7 linked regions of the Homo sapiens genome follow. The protein of the gene in region 1 purifies or fractionates together with the protein of each later gene. This does not show direct contact. Each region holds a gene or a part of one and is shown in the gene's direction. Other genes may lie near its edges. The genes, in order: ENTPD2, PIGN, PTDSS2, ASIC1, FAM20B, ITFG1 and CLPTM1.

What was found.
Region 2: the proteins of ENTPD2 (region 1) and PIGN purify together in Homo sapiens (affinity purification with mass spectrometry; one large-scale study listed by BioGRID and IntAct). This does not show direct contact.
Region 3: the proteins of ENTPD2 (region 1) and PTDSS2 purify together in Homo sapiens (affinity purification with mass spectrometry; one large-scale study listed by BioGRID and IntAct). This does not show direct contact.
Region 4: the proteins of ENTPD2 (region 1) and ASIC1 purify together in Homo sapiens (affinity purification with mass spectrometry; one large-scale study listed by BioGRID and IntAct). This does not show direct contact.
Region 5: the proteins of ENTPD2 (region 1) and FAM20B purify together in Homo sapiens (affinity purification with mass spectrometry; one large-scale study listed by BioGRID and IntAct). This does not show direct contact.
Region 6: the proteins of ENTPD2 (region 1) and ITFG1 purify together in Homo sapiens (affinity purification with mass spectrometry; one large-scale study listed by BioGRID and IntAct). This does not show direct contact.
Region 7: the proteins of ENTPD2 (region 1) and CLPTM1 purify together in Homo sapiens (affinity purification with mass spectrometry; one large-scale study listed by BioGRID and IntAct). This does not show direct contact.

Annotation. Positions count from the first base shown.
Region 1 is NC_000009.12:137,051,262-137,055,282, reverse strand, and holds the start of ENTPD2 (ectonucleoside triphosphate diphosphohydrolase 2), read left to right. Parts: upstream 1-1,221; 5' UTR 1,222-1,285; coding exon 1,286-1,402; intron 1,403-1,907; exon of another isoform or gene 1,908-2,273; intron 2,274-2,407; exon of another isoform or gene 2,408-2,934; coding exon 2,935-3,052; intron 3,053-3,622; coding exon 3,623-3,773; intron 3,774-3,912; coding exon 3,913-4,021. UniProt on the Homo sapiens protein: In the nervous system, could hydrolyze ATP and other nucleotides to regulate purinergic neurotransmission. Hydrolyzes ADP only to a marginal extent. The order of activity with different substrates is ATP > GTP > CTP = ITP > UTP >> ADP = UDP.
Region 2 is NC_000018.10:62,180,557-62,184,056, reverse strand, and holds part of PIGN (GPI ethanolamine phosphate transferase 1), read left to right. Parts: intron 1-3,500.
Region 3 is NC_000011.10:488,279-491,899, forward strand, and holds the end of PTDSS2 (phosphatidylserine synthase 2), read left to right. Parts: coding exon 1-34; intron 35-250; coding exon 251-369; intron 370-1,121; coding exon 1,122-1,236; intron 1,237-1,309; coding exon 1,310-1,455; intron 1,456-1,604; coding exon 1,605-1,790; intron 1,791-2,141; coding exon 2,142-2,304; 3' UTR 2,305-3,121; downstream 3,122-3,621. UniProt on the Homo sapiens protein: Catalyzes a base-exchange reaction in which the polar head group of phosphatidylethanolamine (PE) or phosphatidylcholine (PC) is replaced by L-serine. Catalyzes the conversion of phosphatatidylethanolamine and does not act on phosphatidylcholine.
Region 4 is NC_000012.12:50,056,191-50,060,395, forward strand, and holds the start of ASIC1 (acid-sensing ion channel 1), read left to right. Parts: upstream 1-1,405; 5' UTR 1,406-1,726; intron 1,727-1,979; exon of another isoform or gene 1,980-2,032; intron 2,033-2,560; 5' UTR 2,561-2,576; coding exon 2,577-2,938; intron 2,939-3,568; coding exon 3,569-3,764; intron 3,765-4,205. UniProt on the Homo sapiens protein: Forms voltage-independent, pH-gated trimeric sodium channels that act as postsynaptic excitatory receptors in the nervous system, playing a crucial role in regulating synaptic plasticity, learning, and memory.
Region 5 is NC_000001.11:179,070,894-179,073,980, forward strand, and holds part of FAM20B (glycosaminoglycan xylosylkinase), read left to right. Parts: intron 1-1,019; coding exon 1,020-1,251; 3' UTR 1,252-3,087. UniProt on the Homo sapiens protein: Responsible for the 2-O-phosphorylation of xylose in the glycosaminoglycan-protein linkage region of proteoglycans thereby regulating the amount of mature GAG chains.
Region 6 is NC_000016.10:47,451,064-47,454,563, reverse strand, and holds part of ITFG1 (T-cell immunomodulatory protein isoform 1 precursor), read left to right. Parts: intron 1-405; coding exon 406-551; intron 552-1,773; coding exon 1,774-1,831; intron 1,832-3,093; coding exon 3,094-3,168; intron 3,169-3,500. UniProt on the Homo sapiens protein: Modulator of T-cell function. Has a protective effect in graft versus host disease model.
Region 7 is NC_000019.10:44,989,880-44,993,379, forward strand, and holds the end of CLPTM1 (putative lipid scramblase CLPTM1), read left to right. Parts: intron 1-515; coding exon 516-706; intron 707-970; coding exon 971-1,066; intron 1,067-1,358; coding exon 1,359-1,494; intron 1,495-2,353; coding exon 2,354-2,521; intron 2,522-2,731; coding exon 2,732-3,018; 3' UTR 3,019-3,462; downstream 3,463-3,500. UniProt on the Homo sapiens protein: Involved in GABAergic but not glutamatergic transmission. Binds and traps GABAA receptors in the endoplasmic reticulum (ER).

The DNA of each region.
Region 1 (4,021 bases):
CATGGTCTGGACCCTGCCCCATGGGGCTGCCCTTTGGGCCCCAGCAGCCTGCACTCCCTGGTGGCCTTGCCTCGTGGCTCCCTGACGCTGTGTGGCTGGAATTATTGGGACAAGAATTCCCACTTTGCAGCAGGCGCAAAGGGGGTGGCCCCTGGCCGGGCTGGGATGCGGGGCCTGTGAGGCTGCAGAGCCGAAAGGCCAGCCATGTCGTGGGACGGAGGAGCAGGGCTTGCGTCTGGGGCCAGCTGCGCTTCGCCTGCCCCAGCCGTCCCCAGAAGCCTGTTGCTGACCCGCACCCCAAGCTTGGCCTGGGGACCCTCTTCCTTGCCTTTCAGGCCACGTAGAGGCCCCACCTGTTTCCGTCCTGGGGAAGCCTCCTCTGGCCTCCGCAGCCCAAGCCTCTGTTCCCCTCAGGCCGAGGGGGCAGCAGGCGCGGCTGAGGCCCTGGGCTGGGAGGTATGGACCTTTGGCCCGGTCTGTGCTGCTTCTCCTGTTTCTCGGCTCGGTGTGACCTGGGCCGTCCCTCCCCTTCCCCGTTCCTGCGTCCTCACCTTCACCTCAGTACAGGGCCCAGGTGAGGTGGATCTGACTGGGCCTCAAGGGTAGTTCTGGCCTGGGTCAGCTGCGTGTCTCTGGAGCTGACCTGCGCTGGCTCAGCGCCGCAGGCTGGCGGATCCTTGCTGGCCGGGAGGGCATCCCGCAGGCCAGCCTGGTCCTCACCAGCCCTGGGAGTTGGCGCTCAGGGCCCTGCTCCACAAACAGGTGCTGACCCTCGGCTTCCTCCTGAGTCCCCAGCCCGGGCCCCGCGTGGCTCCGCAGCCGACAGTGCCTCATTCCTGCAAGCGAGTCTGGCCTCCTTTCCCGGGCCCGGGAAAAGCGCGGCTCTCCAGCACAGGACCCTCCGAGCCAGCCTCGCCCGCCCACCCCCACGCCAGGTCTCCTGCCTCCACGGCCGGGGGATCCCCTTGCTGAGTGGGCGGGAAGGGGAAGGTGGGCCATAGCCGCGGGGCGCCCGGGCTCAGACCCGGGAGCCGGGGGGCGGTGCTGGTGACTCAGCCGCGCCCGCGTCTCTCACCTGCGCGGGCCGGACGGCGGAAGCTTGGGAGCGGAGGCGAAACCTGTCCGCCCGTGGGCGTGGCCGGTGATGGGCGGGCCCGCCCGGCCTCCCGCCCCTCGTCCCGCCCCGGGGCCCCTACCCCGCGGTCCCGCGGCCCCGCCCGCCTCCGCCTCCGGCTCCCCGCACTCTCCGGGTCCACGCATCGTCCTCCCGCGCGCCCGCCCGCCCATGGCCGGGAAGGTGCGGTCACTGCTGCCGCCGCTGCTGCTGGCCGCCGCGGGCCTCGCCGGCCTCCTACTGCTGTGCGTCCCCACCCGCGACGTCCGGGAGCCGCCCGCCCTCAAGGTGCGCGCCCGGGCACCCAGCGCACGTCTGGGGAGCAGCGGGCCGGGCTTGGAGCCGGGGAGGGGGTGCGGCTGGGAACCTGAGCAGGATCAGCCCGGGACCCCCACCGTGCTCTGCTCCTGGCGGGCTGGGTGGGGTCCCGGGTTCCGCGCTCTGCGCTCCCCGACCGGGTACGCGGAGGGGGCGGGGGGCGGTGGCGCTTCCAGGGCGACGCGGTGCTGAAGGAACAAGTCCCGGGAGTTCCGCGCCCGCCGCCGAGTCCGTCAACGCAGCCCAGGGGCTGTGTCCCCGCTCCCGGGATAGCCCAGCGATGCCCCCTGGGTGCTGCCGGACGCCCGCCCCCAGGCCTGTGCGGGCCCCCAGGGGCACTCCGGGCCACTTCTGCCCTGTGCCGCCGCCCCGGAGGGTGCGGTTAGAGCCACATCGACTGGGTATTCAGCCCAGATGGGGATCCACAAGCCCCAGGACCCAGGGCCCCCGCCAGGACACGAGAGTGGCCCAGAAAGACAGGAGGGCTTGACCGGAGCAGCCCTGGCCGGTCCTCAAAAGGTTGGAGCAGGCTAGCCTGGATCTCCACTCCAGCAGGCCCAGGGACCTCCTGGTCGGCCCCTTTAACCCTTTATTGGGCTTGTAGGGGGGTGGGGTGGAGAGCCAAGTCCCCCAGCCTGATGGGGAGTCAGAAGCAGGGAGCTCTGCGGCCCTGCAGGACGGCCATGTGGCGGTGCACGCGCTGACCTGTTGATGCTCTGGGCTCTGGGGAAGCCTTGGTCGGGATGGACTGGTGCGGCCCTCTCGGAGGCTGGAATTGGCGCCCGGGCCTGGGAGGCTGGTCCCCAGCTTTCCAGGTGGATCCAGGATGCTGGGGCAGGAGCTGGAAAAGGGCATTTACAAGCTCGTGCCACTCAGGTCTGCAGGAAGGCCCACCCAGCACCCCCAACAAGGCAGGGCCAGCCTCTCTCTCTGGCCCTGGCTTGGAGGCCTAGGGAGAGTGTCTTTAGAGCTGACCTGGCTCTGAGGCCCACGGCCAGCCTCGGTGGACCTTCTTCACCTGGGGCCCTGCCTCCTGCATCCTCAGGTTGGGCTGCCGTCAGAGGAGCTGGAAGGAGACAGAGGAGGAAGGAAGAGGGGAGGAAGGAAGAGGGACTCTAGGGAGCTCCTCTTGCAGAGGAGCTTCCTCTCCCTGAGCCTGGGAAACTTGTGCCCCAGGGAAAAGTCCCTGGGGACCCTCTGTCCCTCTGTCCCTGACTCAGTCCCTCAGTCTGCCCTTGCCAGGAAGGCTGCTGCCCAGACCCTGGCATGCTGGCTTCAGGTAGTCAGGAGGGAAGAGTCACCTCCCCACCACCTCCCTGTTCTCCTTCCAACCACGGCCTCAGAGGAGGCCCTGGCCTCCTCTGAGCTTCAGCATGAGGCTTGGCACATGACTGGGTGGGGGGGGGAGCGGTGGCAAACTGGAGGAACCCAACTTCACGTTTGGTGTCAGGGTGTCAGGGCCCCCGGACACCCCAGGCTGACTCCCTCCCCCTCCCCCGCAGTATGGCATCGTCCTGGACGCTGGTTCTTCACACACGTCCATGTTTATCTACAAGTGGCCGGCAGACAAGGAGAACGACACAGGCATTGTGGGCCAGCACAGCTCCTGTGATGTTCCAGGTGAGGCCCAGCCCAGCCCAGCCAGGACGCCCACTCACTGCAGGGTCTCTGGGACCCTCTCCAGCCTTAGCCAGTGCAGGTCCTTCTGCTTAGTGTTGGGTGGGGCTCACTCCAGGCAGAAGCCCTGGAAAGAGAGAGGCTGGTGCCCCTGCGCCTGAGTGGGGCCAGGAGTCGTTTGCATTCTAGAAAGGAAGCCTAGGCAGCAGGTGGGGAGGTTTGAGCCTCGCCGGGCCCAGTATTGGCTTCTGTGCCCCAGATGGAGCAGGAGGAGGTCTGGGGGCCTGGCGGACACACCCAGGCAGGCCTCAGGAGGCCAACCTGGGTTGACCATGCCCAGGGCTTTGTCCTAGCACCTGCACCCACACCCTCTCAGCAGGCAGCAGCCTTGGTCTCCGGGTGGCACCTGGGCCCCTTTGTCTCCAACCTGGGCGTTTCTGGGGGCTTAAGCAGGGAAGGTGTGCCACCTGGTCTGGGAGCCCACGGCCCCCACCCCCACCCTCACTCTCCTGGCCTACGGCCCACCTAGGGGCTGCCCGTGAGGCATAGGCTCATCTCTCTGCCTCCCTCTAGGTGGGGGCATCTCCAGCTATGCAGACAACCCTTCTGGGGCCAGCCAGAGTCTTGTTGGATGCCTCGAACAGGCGCTTCAGGATGTGCCCAAAGAGAGACACGCGGGCACACCCCTCTACCTGGGAGCCACAGCGGGTATGCGCCTGCTCAAGTGAGTGTGCCTGTGCCCTGGCCCTGTCCCCATGATGGCCTTTGGCTGTGACCCCTTGCAGGGCGGACTCCGAGCACCCCTACAGCAGGCTCACAGCCACCTGGGGAGAAGGCCTCTTGGAGTTCTCTGTGTTTTGCAGCCTGACCAATCCAGAGGCCTCGACCAGTGTGCTCATGGCAGTGACTCACACACTGACCCAGTACCCCTTTGACTTCCGGGGTGCACGCATCCTCTCGGGCCAGGAAGAG
Region 2 (3,500 bases), on another chromosome or scaffold:
AGTTATGTGTTTGTTTTGGAGGTATTTCTTTTTCAATAAATCTGAATAAATTGTGATTTTCTTTAAAGAGAAGTATTAAGTAATATTTAGTATTAAGCAATTAAACTAATTAAAATAAGTAGTTAGTGAATGCTGATATTTTGTAATAACTGCAATTTTATTTACATTAATAGTAAATTACTTTATCATAAAAGGTTTAGTTTTTTTTTTTTTAAAGTATTTTCAGTCTTCACATCTTGTTCTGGAGGAACAAAAACAGAAGCAGGGCATCCTCTAGTGGCTGTAGTGCATATTGCATTTACCCTTGAAATGATAATTCTAAATAATTTATTCAGCAAACATTTGAGTCCTTACTAAGTGCATAAGACTCTGATGGGTGTTGGAGATGCCCCGTCCTGCTGTCATGGAATTGTGGTGAAGTGACAGAGACAGACATTAATTCAAATAGTCGTAGACAAAGCTATGTAATTACAAACTGAAGTAAAAGTTTTCGTTTCTGACTTCACCTGCATAGTCCCTGAGGAAGTGATGCTTGAAATGGAATGTTAGGAGAGAGTGGAAGATAGGTTGCAAGTACATTCTGCAGAGAGGAATTGAGCCTACAAAGGTCTTATAGCAGTGGGATACTTGAATAAAAGAAGGGGCCAGTGATGTGAGATGTTACAAAGTAAAGGGGAGTGCTATGAGACAGGTTTAGAAAAGAAGGCAGAGGCTAGTCTATAAAAGACCTTGTTAGTCACATTAAGGATTTTAGTCTAGATTAGTAGGTGAAAAGGCACTGGAGAGTTTTTTTTTTCCAGCTGTGACTTCATTTTTAAATTTATTTTTTAATATACGATTTTATGTATTCATTGTGTACATGATGTTCTTCAGTTTATATACATTGTGAAATGCTCAAATCTAGCTAAGTAACAAATGCATTACCTTACACATAGTTATCATTTTTGTGATGAGAAATTTGAACATCTACCCTTTTAGCAGTTTTCAAGAATACAATATATCATCATTAACTAGAGTCACCATGCTGTACAACAGAGCTCTTGAACTTATTCCTTCTATCTAACTCTAATATGAATGCTTTGATCAGTATCTCTACAATTGCCCCCCGCTGTGGAACTACCCCAGCCTCTGGTTACCACCATTCTGCTTCTAATTCAGTGGGGTCAACTTTCTTAAGTTCCACATAGGAGTGAAATCATGCAGTATTTGTGTTTCTGCACCTGGCTTATTTCACTTAGCATACCAGGCTTCAGGAACATCCGTGTTGTTGCAAACGTGTCTTTTGACTTTAAAGACAGTGAATGCTTCACAGAAGGCACTGGAGAGTTTTATACAAGGGGTAAGATGTTCAGATTTTCTTTTGAAAAAAGAAAAGCAAGTAATACTCTGGCTACATGGCAAGAAATGGATCAGAGAAGGGTTAGAGTATATAGGGGTGACCTATTCCTGCATTGCAGTAGTTCGCATAAGAGATGGTATACATCTTAAATTATAGAGGTGTCAATGGAGATTAAGACAAATGAACAGATTCAAGAAACACAAAGTGGACAATTGTTAGATTAAATAAAGGGGAAGAATAGGGTGTAAAGAACAATGCCTATTTCTCAGACTTACATACTTGGTGGGAAGGTGGTGCCACCTACTGAGATTGTGAACACTAAGGATTTAGTAGGTAGTAGACAAGGCTCATGGGAAATGTTATGAATTTGGTTTTAAACCTACTTAGTTGAGTGTCTTTGAAACGTCCATGTAGATTTATAAAGGTTCGAGTTACATATGTGGATTTGGAGCTATAATTTGTTGAGGCTTTTGCATATTAGGTAATAACTGAAGCCACAGATATGATGAAACTTGCCAGGATAGAAAGTATAGAGTGAGAAGAAAAGACAGCTGAGGACCAAGTTTTGAGTAACTCCAAAATTTAGTGATCAGATAGAGACTGTTCAACATTGGTCAGAGGTGTAGGTGAAAAATGAAAGCAGTAATGTTCATAGAAGCCAAGTGATAACAGCCTATTAAAAAGGAGAAGGCAGCCGGGCATGGTGGCTCATGCCTGTAATCCCACCACTTTGGGAGGATGAGGTAGGTGGATCACCTGAGGTCAGGAGTTTGAGACCAGCCTGGCCAACATGGTGAAACCCTGTCTCTACTAAAAATACAAAATTACCTGGGCATGATGCTGTGTGCCTGTAATCCCAGCTACTTGGGAGGCTGAGGCAGGAGAATTGCTTGAACCCGGGAGGTGGAGGTTGCAGTGAGCCGAGATCGCGCCACTGCACTCCAGCCTGGGCGATAGATAGGGCGAGACTCTGTCTAAAAAGAAATAAAAATAAAAAGGAGAAGGCGACTGGGCCCAGCAACTCACACCTGTAATCCCAGCACTTTAGGAGGCCGAGGTGAGTAGATGACTTGAGCCCAGGAGTTCAAGACCAGCCTGGGCAACATGGCAAGACCCCCGCTCTACAAAAAATACAAAAATTAGCTGAATGTGGTAAACATGCACCTGTGGTCCCCGCTACTTGGGAAGCTGAGGTGGGAGGATGACTTAGCCCAGGAAGCTTAGGTTGCTTAGAAAATGAAGACTAAAAAATAGCTATTAGATTTTGCACTGTTAACTGTCTTTACTTTCTTATGAAGTAATGACAATAAGGTTTAAGTTGTTTGAGATTTAGGTGGTCAGGAAAAAAAAGAGGTCACATTCAGCCTTTTCAAGAAGTTTGACTGTGTTGGGGAGAAAAGGGCAATAGATGTTTAAAATTTTTTTTATTAATACTGATATTTATGAGATGTATCCTTTTCAGAAATATGGTATTTCATTATGAATAAACAATTTATCTGTTCCCTATGGTTAGATATTGTTTCCAATTTTTTATTATTACAAATAGCAAAAGCCAAGATTTGAATGTAAAGGTTTAAAACCTTTTTCTTTCTGATGTGTAATTTTATCATAGTAAATTCTACACTAGTAGCAGTACTAATACTTGTGAGCTGGTTAAAAACATAAGCTGATGTCTACCTCACACCATATACAAATAATTATTTTTGTTTCAGAGGACACAAACCAACACAAATAAATTTTAAATAATGAAAGGTAAAAAACAAAAATCTAAAACTATTAGAAGAATATATGTGACATAAGAACCAGGAAAGTTTTCTTCTATAGTACAAGACACAAAAAACTCACACCAGAAAGGATAAATGTTTGACAAATTTTACTGTATTAAAGTTGAAAAATTTATTTTAACAAAAGGCCCTATGAACAACATTTATATATAAATGTGTATATCTAGCTATGTATAAACATACACACACTATATAAACATACACACACATATAATTGTAATGTACAAGTCAAATAAAAGGTCAATAACCCTAATCCTATCTGATCAAAGGATATGAATAGGCAGTTGAAAGGAAGAGAGACCCAATTGGCCAATAAAAACATGAAAAAATTTTCATACTCACTAGTAATCAGGCAAATACATATTCAAATAACAGGA
Region 3 (3,621 bases), on another chromosome or scaffold:
GCTGCCCAACTTCAGCGAGTGCTGGTGGGATCACGTAGGTGCCAGCACAGCCCCCGGGGCAGTCGGTGCAGGCTGAGGGGCATTCTCGGAACCCCTGTGCCCAGCGCGGCCCCTGGACCCCCTCATTCTCCCCGGGGGGCAGTGGGTGCAGGCTGAGGGGCATTCTCGGTTCCCCTGTGCTCTTCCGGGGTCCTCCTCGGGGGGCTCGTTACCCCTCACCCCTGCAACGAGTGCTGGCCCCTCCCTGCAGTGGATCATGGACGTGCTCGTCTGCAACGGGCTGGGCATCTACTGCGGCATGAAGACCCTTGAGTGGCTGTCCCTGAAGACGTACAAGTGGCAGGGCCTCTGGAACATTCCGACCTACAAGTACGTCGTGGGGGCTGCGAGGGCAGGGCCGGGTGGGGGTTACCTGGAGGCAGCCTCAGCGTCCGTGCTCCAGCAGACCCCGAGCACCAGGCCCGTCCAGTGTGCGGCTCAGGAGGGGTGACCGTGGGGCTTTGCCTCCTGGAACCTCCCTCTGACCTGGTGTCACTCAAGCCCGGCCGCCCCTCACAGTGGCCATGGCGTCTGACCCACGTACCTCCCTCCTCAATCCCTGGCCGGCCTGGCGCAGGGGCTGTGGGATCATTCCGTGCTTCTCCCTCCCTTGGTTGCTTTGGTTATGAAATAGTTGCAGGTACTTTGTCATTATGACTTTGGAATTTAAAAAAGAAACAGAAGTCTAAGGAAAGGCCTGGGGGACGGGGGTCTCCCCTCCTGCCTGTGGGTGCCCCGGCTCTGCCTGGCTCTGCAGACATGGCTAGCTCACGGCACCGTGGAGCGCCCTCTGAGGCGCTGCAGCCACTGCTCAAGCTGGAAGAGACTGAACAGCAGAGGGCCGTGGAGAAGCAGGGCTTGTAGCTGGGTGGCCAGACCTCGGAGAACAGCCGGGCAGCAGCTGGGTAACCAGGAACAGAGTCTGTGGCCCGATGGCACAGGGCGGGGCGGGGTGACCAAGAGCAGAGCTCGTCCGATGGCACAGGGCGGGGCCGGGTGACCAGGAACAGTCTGTTGCCCGATGGCACAGGGCAGGGTTCGGTGGGCTGCCTTCCTCAGGCTGCCGGCTCTGTGGTTCCCAGGGGCAAGATGAAGAGGATCGCCTTCCAGTTCACGCCGTACAGCTGGGTTCGCTTCGAGTGGAAGCCGGCCTCCAGCCTGCGTCGCTGGCTGGCCGTGTGCGGCATCATCCTGGTGGTAAGGCCGGGCTGCCTCGCGACGGCGCGGCGGGCGGGGGGCCAGAGCTGGTGCTCACCCTCTCCTCCCCTAGTTCCTGTTGGCAGAACTGAACACGTTCTACCTGAAGTTTGTGCTGTGGATGCCCCCGGAGCACTACCTGGTCCTCCTGCGGCTCGTCTTCTTCGTGAACGTGGGTGGCGTGGCCATGCGTGAGATCTACGACTTCATGGATGACCCGTGAGGGCTGCGGCAGTCCGGGTGGAGACACCCCCGGGGGGCAGGGGCCGGAGGGCTGGGGAGCAGAGCCTGGGAGGCCGGAGCCTGGGCAAGTCCGCCTGGAGGACCCTGCGGGGCCCGGGACGCTGAACCCCCTGCTGCCCCTGCAGGAAGCCCCACAAGAAGCTGGGCCCGCAGGCCTGGCTGGTGGCGGCCATCACGGCCACGGAGCTGCTCATCGTGGTGAAGTACGACCCCCACACGCTCACCCTGTCCCTGCCCTTCTACATCTCCCAGTGCTGGACCCTCGGCTCCGTCCTGGCGCTCACCTGGACCGTCTGGCGCTTCTTCCTGCGGTGAGTCAGGGCAGGGCGCGTATGTTCTGAAGGAGGGCCGCTGTCCGGGTCCCTTGGCACAGGCACTGTGGGAGTTTGGTGTCGTTGGTGTCTCACTGTCCCTGCTTCAACCCTCTGGCCGCCTCTGCGGGAGGCGCCTTTCCTGACCCAGCCCTCGGGGCCTTCGCTCTGCACTGACAGATCCAGGCTCCTCAGGGCTCCAGTCTGCCACGGCTGCCGTCCCAGGGCCAGGGTACCCGGCACCCACCCAGTCCATTCCGGACCTCCACAGGGACTAGGTGCCAGCTGTCCATGGGGCCTGCAGTGGGGCTGGTGTGGGGGCAGGTGGTGACGCTGCATCCCGCTCCCCAGGGACATCACATTGAGGTACAAGGAGACCCGGTGGCAGAAGTGGCAGAACAAGGATGACCAGGGCAGCACCGTCGGCAACGGGGACCAGCACCCACTGGGGCTGGACGAAGACCTGCTGGGGCCTGGGGTGGCCGAGGGCGAGGGAGCACCAACTCCAAACTGACCTGGGCCGTGGCTGCCTCGTGAGCCTCCCAGAGCCCAGGCCTCCGTGGCCTCCTCCTGTGTGAGTCCCACCAGGAGCCACGTGCCCGGCCTTGCCCTCAAGGTTTTTTGCTTTTCTCCTGTGCACCTGGCGAGGCTGAAGGCGAGGGGTGGAGGAGGCCCCAGCACAGCCTCATCTCCATGTGTACACGTGTGTACGTGTGTATGCGTGTGTGTACGCGTGTGTACGCGCGTGTGTACACATGCGTGGCCGCCTGTGGTGTGCACGTGTGCTCTGGGCTCCGAGGCTTCTCCAGAGCTGGGAGCTGGCTGGCGTGGCAAGGGCATGCTCTGGGGCAGTGTGTCCCTCAGGAACCAGGGTCCTCCCTCCCCTTTCTGCCTGGTCAGCCCCGTGGCCTCTGGCCCACCAAGCTCCCTGTCACCCAGCCATGGTGTGGTCCAGGCAGGGACATCTCGGTACCCTTTCTGCACTCCGTGGGCCCTGGGTGCGCTGAGGCCTGGAGGCGTCTACACTGGCTCCACATCCACTTCCCCCGCAGCTCGTGTGGGCGCTCGTCCACAAACACTCCGTGGCTGAGAGGCAGCGGATCCAGGCAGCGATGCTGAGCCACCTCCTCCGAGCCTTCCTTTCACACAGACCACCCCGGAGGACACGTGGATGATGGGGTCAGAGATCACTGAGCTGCCCCTCAAGGGGGCCTGGAACCCGGGTGCTGGGGTCATGCTGCCTCCGTGGCTCCAAGGTGAGGGTCATCTTCACGAGCAAAGAGAACCAATAAAGTGACAACGAACGTCTGAGGCTTCCAGCCCTCCCCCCAGCTCCCCGTGTCCTGCTTTGGGGTCCAGTGCAGCCCTCCAGCCTGCCCTCATGCCCAGTGCCCACTTGGGGAAAACCACACAGAGGACAGGAGGCACTCAGCCTCTGCACCTGAGCAAAGACTTGGCGCCTGCCCCGCCCCACCCCCCAGAGAGAGCAGGTGCCAGATGCAGCCCCTCTCCCATTCTCCAGGAGGGTCCAGGTGGCACCCACCCTCTGCTGCGCTTGTCCAAGGGCTGGCGGCCACTGGGCAGTGGACACAGGATTCCTGGGGTACTGTGTTTGTCCCAGGCTGGCAGACACTGGGCAGTGGACACAGGATTCCTGGGGTGCTGTGTTTGTCCCAGGCTGGCAGACACTGGGCAGTGGACACAGGATTCCTGGGGTGCTGTGTTTGTCCCAGGCTGGCAGACACTGGGCAGTGGACACAGGATTCCTGGGGTGCTGTGTTTGTCCCAGGCTGGCAGACACTGGGCAGTGGACACAGGATTCCTGGGGTGC
Region 4 (4,205 bases), on another chromosome or scaffold:
CCTCCAGCACTGCCTGGTACCGCTGAACAGCTCCCCAAGACCTGAATGGAAGATCCTCCCTTCCTTTTGGCAGCTCCGTGTCCAGTCCCCTAGTAAATGGATCTCGACCTCCCTCCTCCACAATCTTAAGTCCACTCTCCCACTAGGGACCTCCAGACCCCTTCTCTGGTTTCCTAGATGTCCACTACTCCCAACTTCTCATCCAACTTCTTTCCAATGTGCCATCCCCTTCTCGTTACAGGTTTTCTTCTAACTTAAAGCCCGGCACCATGTCCTAGGAATACACCTCTCACCATCCTTCTCCCCGAGCCGCACCAGCCTGCAAGTAGAGCGAAGGAGCCACTAGAGACAGAACTCTGGTCCCCCGCACCCTCCTCCTCATCATCTGACACCATCAGACCTCAACAGCCTCTGTGCTAAGAGCCCCTAATGAGCATCAGCAAATTAACAACTTCCCCTTGATTGCTCCTTCTCTGTTAATTGGATAGGGAGGGCCCCCCTCCCCAAGGCCTCTCAGAGAAGAGGAGGGAGGCAGGGAAGGAGAAAGGTGAGAGCCACAGGAGCAGCCCCCAGGCCTGCGTTCTGTGCTGAGACTTCTGCTCCATCCCTGAGCATAGCTCCCCGTTCCAACCCTTCCTCACCCTGTCCCCTTCACTCCCTTTGCCTCCTTCCTTCTGTCCAAATTCCCTTGACCTCTGGCTATTTTTCCTTCCTTTTCTCTGCTCCTTCTTTGGAGATTTGGCAGTAAGGGGTTGCGACCATGCCCCCCACAAGCCCAAAGCTACAAGGATGGGATCTGAGTGGTCAAGGCTGCGTGTTGGCTCACATATGTGCACGTGTATATGTGTCACATGCAGGTGGGAGCAGGGATAAGAGCAGGTGAGTGCTTGCCATGTGGGTCAGGCCCCCGGGATACGTGGACATCTGTTGCGGGGGGGTGTGGTTGTGAATGGTGTGGTGTGACTCTGGTCGGTATGTGTGTCTGTCTCCATATGGGCTAAGTGCTTGAATTAGTCAAGTGTGACTCGGAGCGTGTGTGTGTATGTGTGTGTGTACGCGCGTGTGTGCCACCAGAGGAAGCAGCAGCAAGAGGCAGGAGCATCGATCCGAAGGAGACAGCGCGGGGAGAGGGACGCTAGGGGCAGACACCCTCCCTCCTGCGCGCACACACGCGCGCGCGCACACACACCACACACAGAGTCATACACACAAGCCATAGGGCCTCGCAGGCAGGGAGACGGCTCCGGGACTGGAGAGAGGCAGCGCCGCCGAAAGCGGCCGCGAGGAGGGGCGAGGCGGCGCGGGGAGCCCTGGGTCCCGCTCCCGGATCCGGGGCCCCGCGCGCACACCAGCCCAGAGACAGCCTCGCAGACACTCGTAGGCGCGCACGCGCACCCTCTCCCCTCCCCCTCCCCTCCCGCCGCCTCCCGGCCGGACGATGGATCCCTGCAGATCCCAGGGCTGAGAGCACCGCGCACCGCGCCGAGCCCGGGCAGACCGAGCCGAGGCGAGCGAGCCAGCGAGCCAGCGCGCGCGGGCGGGCGGACAGATCGGAGCCGAGCGGGGCCGGGCGGGGCGCTCCCTGCAGGGCTCTGCGCGGCGTGCCGCGGCGGCCGCGGGCTCCGGCCCCGGGCCATGAGCCCCTCCGCGACTCGGCGCTGAGCCCGCCACCGGTCCAGCGCCCCAGGACCCGCCGCCGGCTGCCGGCTTGCCGAAGCCCCCTCAGGTGGGTTTCCGATACCCCTGCCTTTGGCCGCGAGGCTCCTCGGTACCCCGAAGCCGGGACTCTCCTCCCTCTGGATTTCCCTTGCTGCTGGGGCGGCTCGGTGGCTGGGGAGGGGGGCGGGGGCCGAGCTGGGGATCTGACTGCGACGAGAAGCTGGACTGGGGGGGGCTGCGTCCGGGGCGGGGACAGCTCGCTGTCATAGGGAACCGCGCCCCCCCTCCATACATCCACCTCGGGCAGCCCGCCACCCCCCACTCCCAACATACACACAGCCTGCGCTTATGTGAGAACTGGAGACACCCGCAGGTGAGGACTCAGGCTGGGCCCCTCCCTAGATGTAGCCACCTCCCTGGGGGTTTTCTGGCCCCAGTTTAGCCCTTAGGACCACAGCCCCGTCCAGGGAATACCCGTGACCAGGACAGGAGCTCCTTACCCCGGGGTCAGCCCATCTGGGTGAGTTTTCATCTCCAGGATGGGGTGGATATTCTTGTCCCAGAGTGACCCCACATCTGGAGGGAACTCCTGCGCCTGCCTATGGGTGCATCAGGACTTCCCCCTCAACCTCGGATGACTATATCTGGGGTCTCCCCGGGCCTGGGAAGCTTCTCTGGGGAGCATTCTCTTGGCCTGACCTGACCCCCTGTGCCTCTGTATTTGGAGGAACCCTGGATGTGTCCCTTGGTCAGCCACCTCTGGGCTTGCAAAGCAGGGAAGTCTTCTGCCCGAGGAGTGGTGACCTCTGGAGATGAGGATTCTGGATGGGCACATGTGGAGGGGCTCCATGTGTACTTTCATCCCAGGACAATGATAGACTGTCCCTCCCTCCTCCCCCAGGATCCCCTCAACAAGGATGGAACTGAAGGCCGAGGAGGAGGAGGTGGGTGGCGTCCAGCCGGTGAGCATCCAGGCCTTCGCCAGCAGCTCCACACTGCACGGCCTGGCCCACATCTTCTCCTACGAGCGGCTGTCTCTGAAGCGGGCACTGTGGGCCCTGTGCTTCCTGGGCTCCCTGGCTGTGCTGCTGTGTGTGTGCACGGAGCGTGTGCAGTACTACTTCCACTACCACCATGTCACCAAGCTCGACGAGGTGGCTGCCTCTCAGCTTACCTTCCCTGCTGTCACGCTGTGCAACCTCAACGAGTTCCGCTTTAGCCAAGTCTCCAAGAATGACCTGTATCATGCTGGGGAGCTGCTGGCCCTGCTCAACAACAGGTGGGTGGCTCCCACCCTCCCTCAGCCCTGCTCCTGGAGTTGCTTGAGTTCCAGTCAGGATGTCTGCCTCCCTGACCCACCATAGAGCCCAGCCAACCCTGCCCTTTAACCCACCCCCACCCCCAAACCTGCCACTCACAGCAGAGGAGTTAGGGTGCTGCTGAGCACCCAGTTAAGGGCACCCAGCCTCCGATCCCAGCATAGTCCAGAACAGCTCGACCCCCACCCAGCCTGAGGTATGAGACATTGTCACCCTCTCTGGAGTGAGCTTTACCTTCATTCTGGCCACTCTGTCTTGACCTTCTCGTCAGTTGGGGGATGGGGACAGAACATCTTTAAAGGGTAGAAACTACAGTATAAAAGCCACAGCCCCTGCCTTGTCTCTCTGCCCACCTTATCCATGCTTCCTCTCACCCATGTGCTGGGATGGGATGCCCTGCCCCTGGGCAGCCACTACAGTTCCTCCTGTCATTTCAGACCCATGTGGTAGAGCCTCTGCATGCCCAGCTCTCCTTCCTTGCCTACACCTGGGACTGATCCCCAGGGCTGGAGGCTGCCCCCATCACCCAAGTTGGGTGCAGGACACTGATGACTGTACTGACCCGTGTGTCACTCACCCCCGGACCCCAGGTATGAGATACCAGACACACAGATGGCAGATGAAAAGCAGCTGGAGATACTGCAGGACAAAGCCAACTTCCGCAGCTTCAAACCCAAACCCTTCAACATGCGTGAGTTCTACGACCGAGCTGGGCACGACATTCGAGACATGCTGCTCTCCTGCCACTTCCGGGGGGAGGTCTGCAGCGCTGAAGACTTCAAGGTGGTGAGTCCCCTCGTGTGGGGTGTGAGTCAGCCTGGCCCACAGAGGAGGAGGAGGAGACAAGGAGCAGGCTGGGCCTCTCCGGGTGCTTGCTACTCTGGGAGAGGAAGTTGTATGTCCTGGGGTTTGCTTCTAGTAGAAGGGGAGTTTGTTCAGCATAGGGGCACATTTGCACTCACTGCATGAGCACCTGAGCCTCAGCCTTGCAGCCATGATGGCAGGAAAGAGAGCCTACAGTGCACAACACACACATATATGCACACACGTGCGTGGTCTGGCATAGCCACAAACCCACCAAGCTTACCTTCTAGGCCACAGGTGTCAGAGCTGAGCAGACAGGTGGGTAAGCTACAGCCGTGTTACTTGTAGTGAGGTCCAGGACCATCAACTGGGAGCTTGAAAGGAATGCAGGACTTTGCCACCCCACTTCCCAAACCTACTGAA
Region 5 (3,087 bases), on another chromosome or scaffold:
AGACTCTACCTTGATACTGTTACAATGGCAATTTCAACATGTATTTTGTAGGGGACAGACATTCAAATGGTAGCAGTTGGTGAAATAAGGCAGATAGGTATCCTTAAAATAATTTTTTCCGCCAGGCGCAGTGGCTCACGCCTGTAATCCCAGCACTTTGGGAGGCCGAGGCGGGCGGATCACGAGGTCAGGAGATCAAGACCATCCTGGCTAACACGGTGAAAACCCGTCTCTACTAAAAAATACAAAAAAATTAGCCGGGCGTGGTGGCGGGTGCCTGTAGTCCCAGCTACTCAGGAGGCTGAGGCAGGAGAATGGCGTGAACCCGGGAGGCAGAGCTTGCAGTGAGCCGAGATCACACCACTGCACTCCAGCCTGGGCGACAGAGCAAGACTCTGTCTCAAAAAAAAAATAATAATAATAATTTTTTCCCAGTAGAAATTATTTTAGACTTCAGAAACACATGAGGAAGAAGGAAGTTTATAGTACCCATTAACGTCTAAGGATTAACGTCTAAGGATCCTCTTGTTAACACTGTAGTGTACTTCATTCCAATCCATGTATGTGTATTTTGTTTTCCTACAGATTTGAAGTGAAACAGGTTTTTCCTCCAACCTCTTCCCCCCACCCAGCATCATATCATAGGCATTTTCCCATTCCACTAAATTTTCAAAATTGTTTTTAACAGCTGCATGGTATTCCTTTCAATGGATGAACCATAATTTAACTATTTCCCAGTCGTTAGACATTCAGATTGTTCAACATTTTTCCTGTTATAAACAGCACTGCAGTGAACATGTGTGTAAATCTCTGTATATATCTCTGATTAGTTACACAGAAACAATATCAAAACATAGTAATGTGGCTTACTCATTATGTAGGGGTAATTCTAAAGCAAAAATTATTTAGTTAAAGGATTTTACCTAATTATTTTTTCACTTTTGTCTGCCTAGCAGGCTTTCAACTCCGTTTGATAATGAGAAGTTTTATGTACCTTGTTCTATAACTTTTTCTCCCAGCATTCGGGTGTCCACCTGGAACAGACTGAACTACCTAAAGAATGGTGTGCTAAAGTCTGCCTTAAAATCTGCCATGGCCCATGACCCCATCTCCCCAGTGCTCTCTGATCCTCATCTGGACGCCGTGGACCAGCGGCTCCTGAGTGTCCTGGCCACCGTGAAGCAGTGCACCGACCAGTTTGGGATGGACACAGTACTGGTGGAAGACAGGATGCCTCTCTCACACTTGTAATTCTCGACACAAAATAAGTGAAACTTCTTTTTACAAAGATAGAGAAACAGCACAATCAATTCCAAATGGTATGAGATGGATTGGAAGTGGCCAGCAGCAAGTTCTGGTGACGGGACAGAGTGGCCTTGGATGTCTTTGGTATTTTCTGTAGTAGAAACTAAAGCAAAGACCACAAGTTTCAGAGCATGGAGACATTCCTGCTGAATCGCCTTCTCACCTCCTCGGCAATTGCTCATTCTAGGGTTGGGCATCATAGTTGGTCAGTCTTAATTCCCATGCCAAAGGACAAACAGGTGTGACATTTGGATAGATGAATACTGGGATTGGCTCTGGAGCATGTGTTTTGAGTTGAACCTTGCAGTCCTTTCTCTACGCCCGTGGATTTTGTGGAAACACTTTGCAATCTCTTTGTCTTTTTTTTTTTTACCAGAACTAGTTACATTGGAATGCTTACTGTCCTACAGAGTGGCAGCAAATAAAACCTTGCATTCCATCAAGCCAAAATAGCACACTCTGTTAGAGGAGATACATGTTTAAGATAGAATTGGAGGGAAGGACAAAAACAGAAAAATGTTTGGGCTTTTAAGCCATTGGGTAGTATTGTTTTGATGATCTTAGAGGAGGGAAGAAGAGAGAGAGACCCAATGGTAGAACCAGAATCAGGGAGATGACTGAACTACTGAAAAACAGGTTCCCTTGTATTTAGGATCTTAAGGTGTATAAAAAGCAAACATGACTTTGCACCTAAGTAAATTCTGCATTCTCATAGTTGTGTCCCAATTAACCAAAAAGTTGTCTCTAGAGAAAATACTATTACAATCTAAGCATGATTCTCTGTGGAGACTAATTTTTTCCCCTTTTGCCAAAAGCAGTCCTTCCCAAATTAACAAAGCAAACTGAAATAATACCTTGAATAACAGGTTGCCTGTGGTCTCTGTCATCCTCGTTTCTCTTCTGAAATGAATTTCCACCTCTGCCTTTAAGGCATTTTTGTCACTGAAGCTGCTGTTCCCAAGAGATCGGCAACCTTTTTGTCCCTTTCTCATAAGAAAGGGACACTCCTACAGGTGAGAGTGTATACCTTACTCTCTCAGATAAGTGGCTGGACTTATCTTGTGATTTGGGGCCATGGAAGATTGGAAACAAAGATTTTAAGCCTTCTTCTTTTTTTCTTTTTTCTTTTTTTTTTGAGACCAAGTCTCACTCTGTTGCCCAGGCTGGAGTGCAGTGGCACGATCTTGGCTTACTGCAACCTCCGTCTCCCAGGTTCAAGCGATTCTCTTGCCTCAGCCTCCAGAGTAGCTGGGATTACAGGCGCCCGCCATCGTGCCCAGCTAATTTTTATATTTTTAGTGGAGACAGGGTTTCGGGTTTCACCATGTTGGCCAGGTTGATCTTGGACTCCTGACCCCAGGTGATCCACCTGCCTCAGCCTTCCAAAGTGCTGGGATTACAGGCATGAGCCACCGTGGCCGGCCAAGATTTTAAGCCTTCTGAGCCTTGAAATTGAGGAGGTTAAAAGGAAGAGCCTTAAGATTTTGATTTATGTCAAATCCTAATTCTATCATTCAGTCTTGTTTGGAGTTCTGAACCCATGATGTTGTATTATGCTTCTTTCTCCTCTTAGCACTCTCAAATTTCAGGTTTGTAAAACACAGTTTTTGTTTTGTGTTCTGGCAAAGTGATCTCAACATGTAAGTAGTTGCAGTAAAACACAGGGGCAAAGGAAGACAGGCCTGATGTGCCCACTCATCTATGGACTCAGAGCTGTGTGCTTTGCTCCTGCATCTTGTTGAGGTGCTGTTCCAGCTTTGCATTTCTGTCAAGTAGAGGCGA
Region 6 (3,500 bases), on another chromosome or scaffold:
AATAATATCTTTTAATTGAAAACATCCCAGTGATAATGCTTACTGCTTTGGCAATTATGAGCCTCCATTTGTTAGAAACACCATCCGAATGTCTTGGTGTCCTTGACAAAGGAACTATATAGAAGGGCTATACTAGCCATTGCTTGAACATAATAAACACGTTTTCTCTCGACATATTTCAGATTTGTCTTGTTTCTTGAGACTATTCTGCATTCATTCTGAACTCTTTTTTAGACCAAAGAGGTCTAAATACATGATGGATGAAAAGATAGGAAAGAGAAGGCAATCAGTCAGTTCTGTTAAGTTTTAAGTTTTTCATTGAAAATATTTTTGTGTGGTAGAAATACAGAATTGTCCTTTTCCATTACAACTTGTCTGATATTTGTAAATGCTTGTTTCTTTTAGGAATCACAGTGCATTGATAACAAGTGTAGTCCCTGGGGATTATGATGGAGATTCTCAAATGGATGTCCTTCTGACATATCTTCCCAAAAATTATGCCAAGAGTGAATTAGGAGCTGTTATCTTCTGGGGACAAAATCAAACATTAGGTGAATTTGTTTTAAAAATTTTTAATATTTATCATTGAATATGAAGGTAAATGTAACAAAATATTGTTCTGAAATCAGTTCAAAAATACTGTTCTTGGGTGTCAATAATTGTAAAACCTTTTTTCAAAGTTTATTTCCTGATTTTTCTTTTTCAACCCTGAACTGGGCAGGGATCACTTCTACTGACAAACTTCATTCTTACTAGCTTAAAGAGGACAGAGATTTATTAAAGGATTTTAGTGGCTCACAGAATCATTGAGATGGCTAAAGAATAAACTCTAGGTTGAGCTTTCAGGAGCAATCCCAATATCATCAAAAAAGCTACTGCCTCTTTCCCCTATCAGAAGTGGCTAGTTACACAACTGCTGCCAGAATGATGCTGTGCCTGCAGTGATTCTCACTAGCAAAATGAATGCTGCACCTGGTCTCTTGATACTCCCAAATTCAGTGAGCAGACACAGATAGAAATAGCAGAGAAACAGCCTTTACCTCATTCATGCCTTTAAGACTCACAGTGTATCTGATTGGCAAGGCTTAACTTTTATTCAGCATCTCAGATGCCACAATATCTGGAAAATGCTATTTTTGGTTTCTAGTCTCCTTAGCACAGGAAAGCACAAAAAAGTTGAAGTATGGTTCGAGAGTCAGTCTACCATACCTAGTCACAAATCATCAAGCCTTATCTGAAAAGCCAATTAGTTATACCTAAATAGGCAACTTTGTTCATGGAGCCAAATTTCAGTCATGTTTTCTGCACCATTTGGGAATGTAAACAGTAATCGCGATACATTATATTCATTAAGTCAATAAATATTTACAGAGGGAGTACCATGCACAAAGCTTGTATATAAGCATGTACATTTTAGAACCAGGAAGTTTTGCATATGTGGCCTTCTTTACACCAAAACCTTGTTAATTGTCAACCTCTCTAGCACTAAATTGTGTAAAGACAAAGACTCAGCTAGCAAATATTTAGATGCATACCTCAAAAGGAGGTTATTGTAATGCTAGTCTTCACTGTAGAATGTATTCTCCCAATATTTTGTCTTTGCAAGCTTGATGTTCATTTGAACTAGATTTATAGTATCTCATTAATGATAATAGTTGGAATAAATCAGAGATAAATCTAGAAAAGAGTAGAAGAATATTTTTTCCTAAGCATAGATATCAAAAGTAATATAAAATGCCTGCTAATTCATATATATATATATCTTTTTTGCAGATCCTAACAATATGACCATACTCAATAGGACTTTTCAAGATGAGCCACTAATTATGGAGTAAGTATGGGCTTGCTTCCTTTGAAACGATTTTAAACTTAAACATAAAATAAAATCTTCACATAGGAAACTACTTTGCTTAGTAATAAAAATACTAAATTCACTCAGAGGCCTGTACCTTTGATTATATTGTATTTATTTGCCATCAGATAGGACAAAGAAAAATGAAATTTATTATTTTGGAAAGTAGAAGAGATTTGTGTTTTTATTTCAGTCGCTTCAAATGTGTCCATTATGGATCTATGCTGTCATTACTGAAAGAATTAAGATACCTGTTTTTGAGTAAAACTGTTATATTTGATATTTAGGATACAGTTTCCTCTAGAAATTTAGAAAGATTCCTATATTAAGGAGAAATTTTTGTTCTTTTTATAATATAACTCCTGCTTTGTGTTATCATTTATATTCTCACTGTAGACTCATGTACCAGCATAATTGATTTAAATAATTGATGTAAATTTGGATTTGCAAATTTCTGACAGCGTATTTTGGTAGAGGTCGAGATCATTCCCGGGACTAGAGCAAAGTTTGGCCACATTCTTGTTTCCAGTACTGTCTTTCTTACAGTTATTAAAATCATACCCATACAGCAGTGTGTCAGTGGCCATTAGAAGTCTGAACTGTAAATCCATGGATTAATCTTCTTAACGGTGCCCCGCTAGATTTCTTTCATAGTTGTGTATTTTTTCATTGTTGTTAAAATATTCAATGGCCAGTATGAAGTTTTATACCAACTAGGATTATTTTTCTAGGTTATTTCTCCTAAGCCCATCTAAGTAAACAAGTTGGCTTAGGATTCTGAAGTAAGTTTCTAGGAATTAGTGCTGTATCCTTATCATTCAAGGGTAGTCTAGATAATGCAAAGATTACAGAGATACCCAAAATCTCACAAAACGAATTTATTTCTTGCTCTTACTATATGTCCAGTGTGGGTCAACAACAGGCTCTGCTCTGTGCTGTTGCTTAGAGTCAGGCCATCAGAGAGCCCACTGTCTTTGTAGCTAGTCCATCTGAATCACAATGCCTTCTCATTGCCATGGCAAGCCTGGAGAGGGCTGGAGGGGCTGGTAACAGAAATTATACACTTTGGCCTAAAAGTGACACATGTCACTTGTGCTGACATTTGACTTAATACTTATCACTAGATACTGGCGAGCATTGTAATGTCTACCACACTTCCCAAAAGTTACTGCTTCTTTTAAAGCTAAATTAGAAGTAAGAATTTAAAGAAATAGCTGCTTATTGTTTTAATTTTTTTTCAGTTTCAATGGTGATCTAATTCCTGATATTTTTGGTATCACAAATGAATCCAACCAGCCACAGATACTATTAGGAGGGTGAGTAAATATGGTTATAACTATGTAATTAATCGTATATATTGCTTCTACTTTAACCATTGGAGAAAAAATAGCTCATTGGAATCCTTGTTTTTAAAGATTTTTAAGTGGGCATTTGGTTAATATATATAAGCTTTCTCAAATAGTTTGGATTTGGCCTGCACCTGCTTTCCAAGGGCCAGCTTACTCCTTTTATCTCTTTGAAAAATTAGAGATTGAAACTTTACGGGTCCCCATTTAAATATTGGTTCATTAAATGTTTTTGAAATGGATAGATTTCACGTAAATAGGGAGGATACCTGCAGTCTTGAGTGGATCCTCCCTATCTTAGT
Region 7 (3,500 bases), on another chromosome or scaffold:
TTTCCTGAGCATGGCTGTGAGCCAGTTCCTTCCCGGTGTCAGGGCAGGGGCCTGGAGGAGGTGGTCTTGAAGTGCATGCCACAGATCTTCCTTCCCAGGGAGGGCGAGCTGGCACCATGGTGTGGCACAGACCCCGCGTCCCTTCAGATTCTGCCATGCCAGGCTGTTTGGCCTCAGGGAAGCAGCTTCCCTGACCAGTCCTTAGCACCTGGCACGTGGTGAGCCCTGTCCATGGCACCAGTCACCGTCACCATCAGTCAAGGGACTGCACCTTGGGGTGCTGGGTGCTGACGTCCTATGGGAGGGCTCCAGGGGTGCCGCCTGTCTGGTGCTCTGGGGGTCACCCAATGAATATGAGAGCCTTCCTGGGAGAGAGGGGTCTCGTTCAGCACCCCTCCTGAGGACCCAGCCCCACCCCAGGGTGTGAGGATGCAGGCCAAGGGGGCCTGAGGGAGCTGCAGTAGGGTCTCAGCACCTCCTCAGCCTCCTGGTTCCCCCCTACCCCCTGCGCACAGATATCCAGTTCTGGAACAGCCGGCAGTCCCTGGAGGGCCTGTCCGTGCGCTCCGTCTTCTTCGGCGTTTTCCAGTCATTCGTGGTCCTCCTCTACATCCTGGACAACGAGACCAACTTCGTGGTCCAGGTCAGCGTCTTCATTGGGGTCCTCATCGACCTCTGGAAGATCACCAAGGTCATGGACGTCCGGGTAAGGCTGGGGCGCCATGCTGTCTCGGGAGCTGCAGGGGTTGGGAGGGGGTAGTGTGGCCCAGCTGGACCCTGGAGCTGGCCCCCGGGGGATTCCCAGCAAGTGCCTCACTCCCAGGACTGAGGGGATTTTCTCACCAGGGGATTTTTTGGGTCACACATGGGGCAGGGGAACTGGGAACGGTGGGGAAGGGCAGGGGCTGGTTCTGGCTTGTGGGGTGGGAGCCAGCGTAGCAACTGACCATGGCACCCACCTCATCCACAGCTGGACCGAGAGCACAGGGTGGCAGGAATCTTCCCCCGCCTATCCTTCAAGGACAAGTCCACGTATATCGAGTCCTCGACCAAAGTGTATGATGATGTGAGTGTCCTGCACAGTGGGCCCCTGGGGGTGGTCTCCAGGTACCACGTATCCCTGAGGCACCCGGGGCCGGCCATCTGTCTGCCGGACCCATGCTTTACAGCCTGTGCCACATCCTCTGTGTCCCCCATCTGCCATAACTGCTTCCCTGGGCGAGTCCGGAGTCCCCAGGGCTACCTGGAAATTCCCCCTGCCCGGCCTGCCAGACCAGGTGTGGTGGGTGAGGGCGGGGAGCAGGGCTGCCAGGCAGGGCTGAGGAGCTGGCTGACAGCCCCACCCTGTGGCCCCACAGATGGCATTCCGGTACCTGTCCTGGATCCTCTTCCCGCTCCTGGGCTGCTATGCCGTCTACAGTCTTCTGTACCTGGAGCACAAGGGCTGGTACTCCTGGGTGCTCAGCATGCTCTACGGCTTCCTGCTGACCTTCGGTGAGCGGTCCGGCCGCCCCAGGAGAGAGCAGGCCCCATGCTGCGCAGGGCTCACAGCCCCAGTGTAGGAGACAGACCCATCCCCAGACAGGGACAACCTAGGGTGGGCAGAGCTGGGATATAGGGAGGCCCGAGGGCACACATGGCCCCATCTGGGGTCAGAGAGGACTTCAGGGAGGACATGAACAGTACGCTTCAGTCCTCATTCTCAGGGGGCCTTTGTGTCTTGGGAACAAGTAAACAAGTAGGGCCAGGTGCAGTGGCTCACACCTGTTATCCCAATGCTTTGGGAGGCTGAGGCAGGAGGATCACTTGAGCCCAGGAATTCGTGACCAGCCTGGGCAACTTGGCAAGACCCGATCTCTACAAAAAAACACAGAAATTATTGGGGAGTGGTGGTGCGTGCCTGTAGTCCCAGCTACCTGGGAGGCTGAGGTGGGAGGATCCCTTGAGTCCAGGAGGTTGAAGCTGCAGTGAGCCATGATTACGCCACTGCACTCCAGCCTGGGTGACAGAGTGAGACCCTGTCTCAAAAAACAAAAGACCGGGTGAATCACAGCCAATAGTGAGTACTGTGAAGGGCAGAGTGGTGGGAGGATGCACATTAATAGGGGTCCGGGGGCCCCTCTGAGGACAGGACATTTAAACAGAGGCCTCAGATATCCAGGGAGAGAGCTGTGCGGATGTGACAGAAGGCCCCACCAGTGCAGAGGCCGCTGGTAGAGTGTGCCCAGGTATAGGAAGTGGTAGAGTGTGCCCAGGTGTAGGAAGTGGTGAGGGGGCTGGTATGGCCAGTGCAGAGTGCACAGGGGAGAGGTGGGAGAGGCCATCCCTCTGCTCATGGGTGCTCTCACTGCAGGCTTCATCACCATGACGCCCCAGCTCTTCATCAACTACAAGCTCAAGTCTGTGGCCCACCTTCCCTGGCGCATGCTCACCTACAAGGCCCTCAACACATTCATCGACGACCTGTTCGCCTTTGTCATCAAGATGCCCGTTATGTACCGGATCGGCTGCCTGCGGGACGGTGAGGCCCGGTGGGCAGGTGGGAGCTCCCACCGGAACAGGGCCCTGAGGCAGTCTTTAGGGCCCAGGCCTGAGGGGGTGCCACGGCCCCAGATGGGGTGCTCAGTCTGAGGGGGCTCGGCCCCGCCCTTGCATCACGCCCTCTCCACCCAGGCCCACCTGGCTGTGGACGGGCCAGCCCGACCTCACACTGCCTCCCACCCCTCTCCAGATGTGGTTTTCTTCATCTACCTCTACCAACGGTGGATCTACCGCGTCGACCCCACCCGAGTCAACGAGTTTGGCATGAGTGGAGAAGACCCCACAGCTGCCGCCCCCGTGGCCGAGGTTCCCACAGCAGCAGGGGCCCTCACGCCCACACCTGCACCCACCACGACCACCGCCACCAGGGAGGAGGCCTCCACGTCCCTGCCCACCAAGCCCACCCAGGGGGCCAGCTCTGCCAGCGAGCCCCAGGAAGCCCCTCCAAAGCCAGCAGAGGACAAGAAAAAGGATTAGTCGAGACTGGTCCTCACCTGCTCCGGCTCCTGGCGACCACTACCCCTGCGTCCCGGCCCCCTCGCCTCCCCTCCCTGTCGCCCTTTCCCTGGACAGATCAGGCCGGGGCGGTGGGAGGCCCGCCTCAGGTCAGGGCCCAGCGTGTGATGTAGGGGCCGGGGCAGGCCAGGGTTTGTTTGTGGAGGCGCTGTCTGTCCCTCTGTCCCTCTGTGTTTCCAGCCATCTCGCCCTGCCAGCCCAGCACCACTGGGAATCATGGTGAAGCTGATGCAGCGTTGCCGAGGGGGTGGGTTGGGCGGGGGTGGGGCCGGGCCCCCCTACGGGATGCCCACGGCCGTTCATCATCTTGTCCCTCGTCCCCCTACCACACTCCCCCTCCTAGACCGCCGCCCTTTAACACAGTCTGGATTTAATAAATTCATATGGGTGTTTAACTTAAACTCAGCACTGCCCCTCCTCCTCGTGCCTTCCTTCCTCTGTTG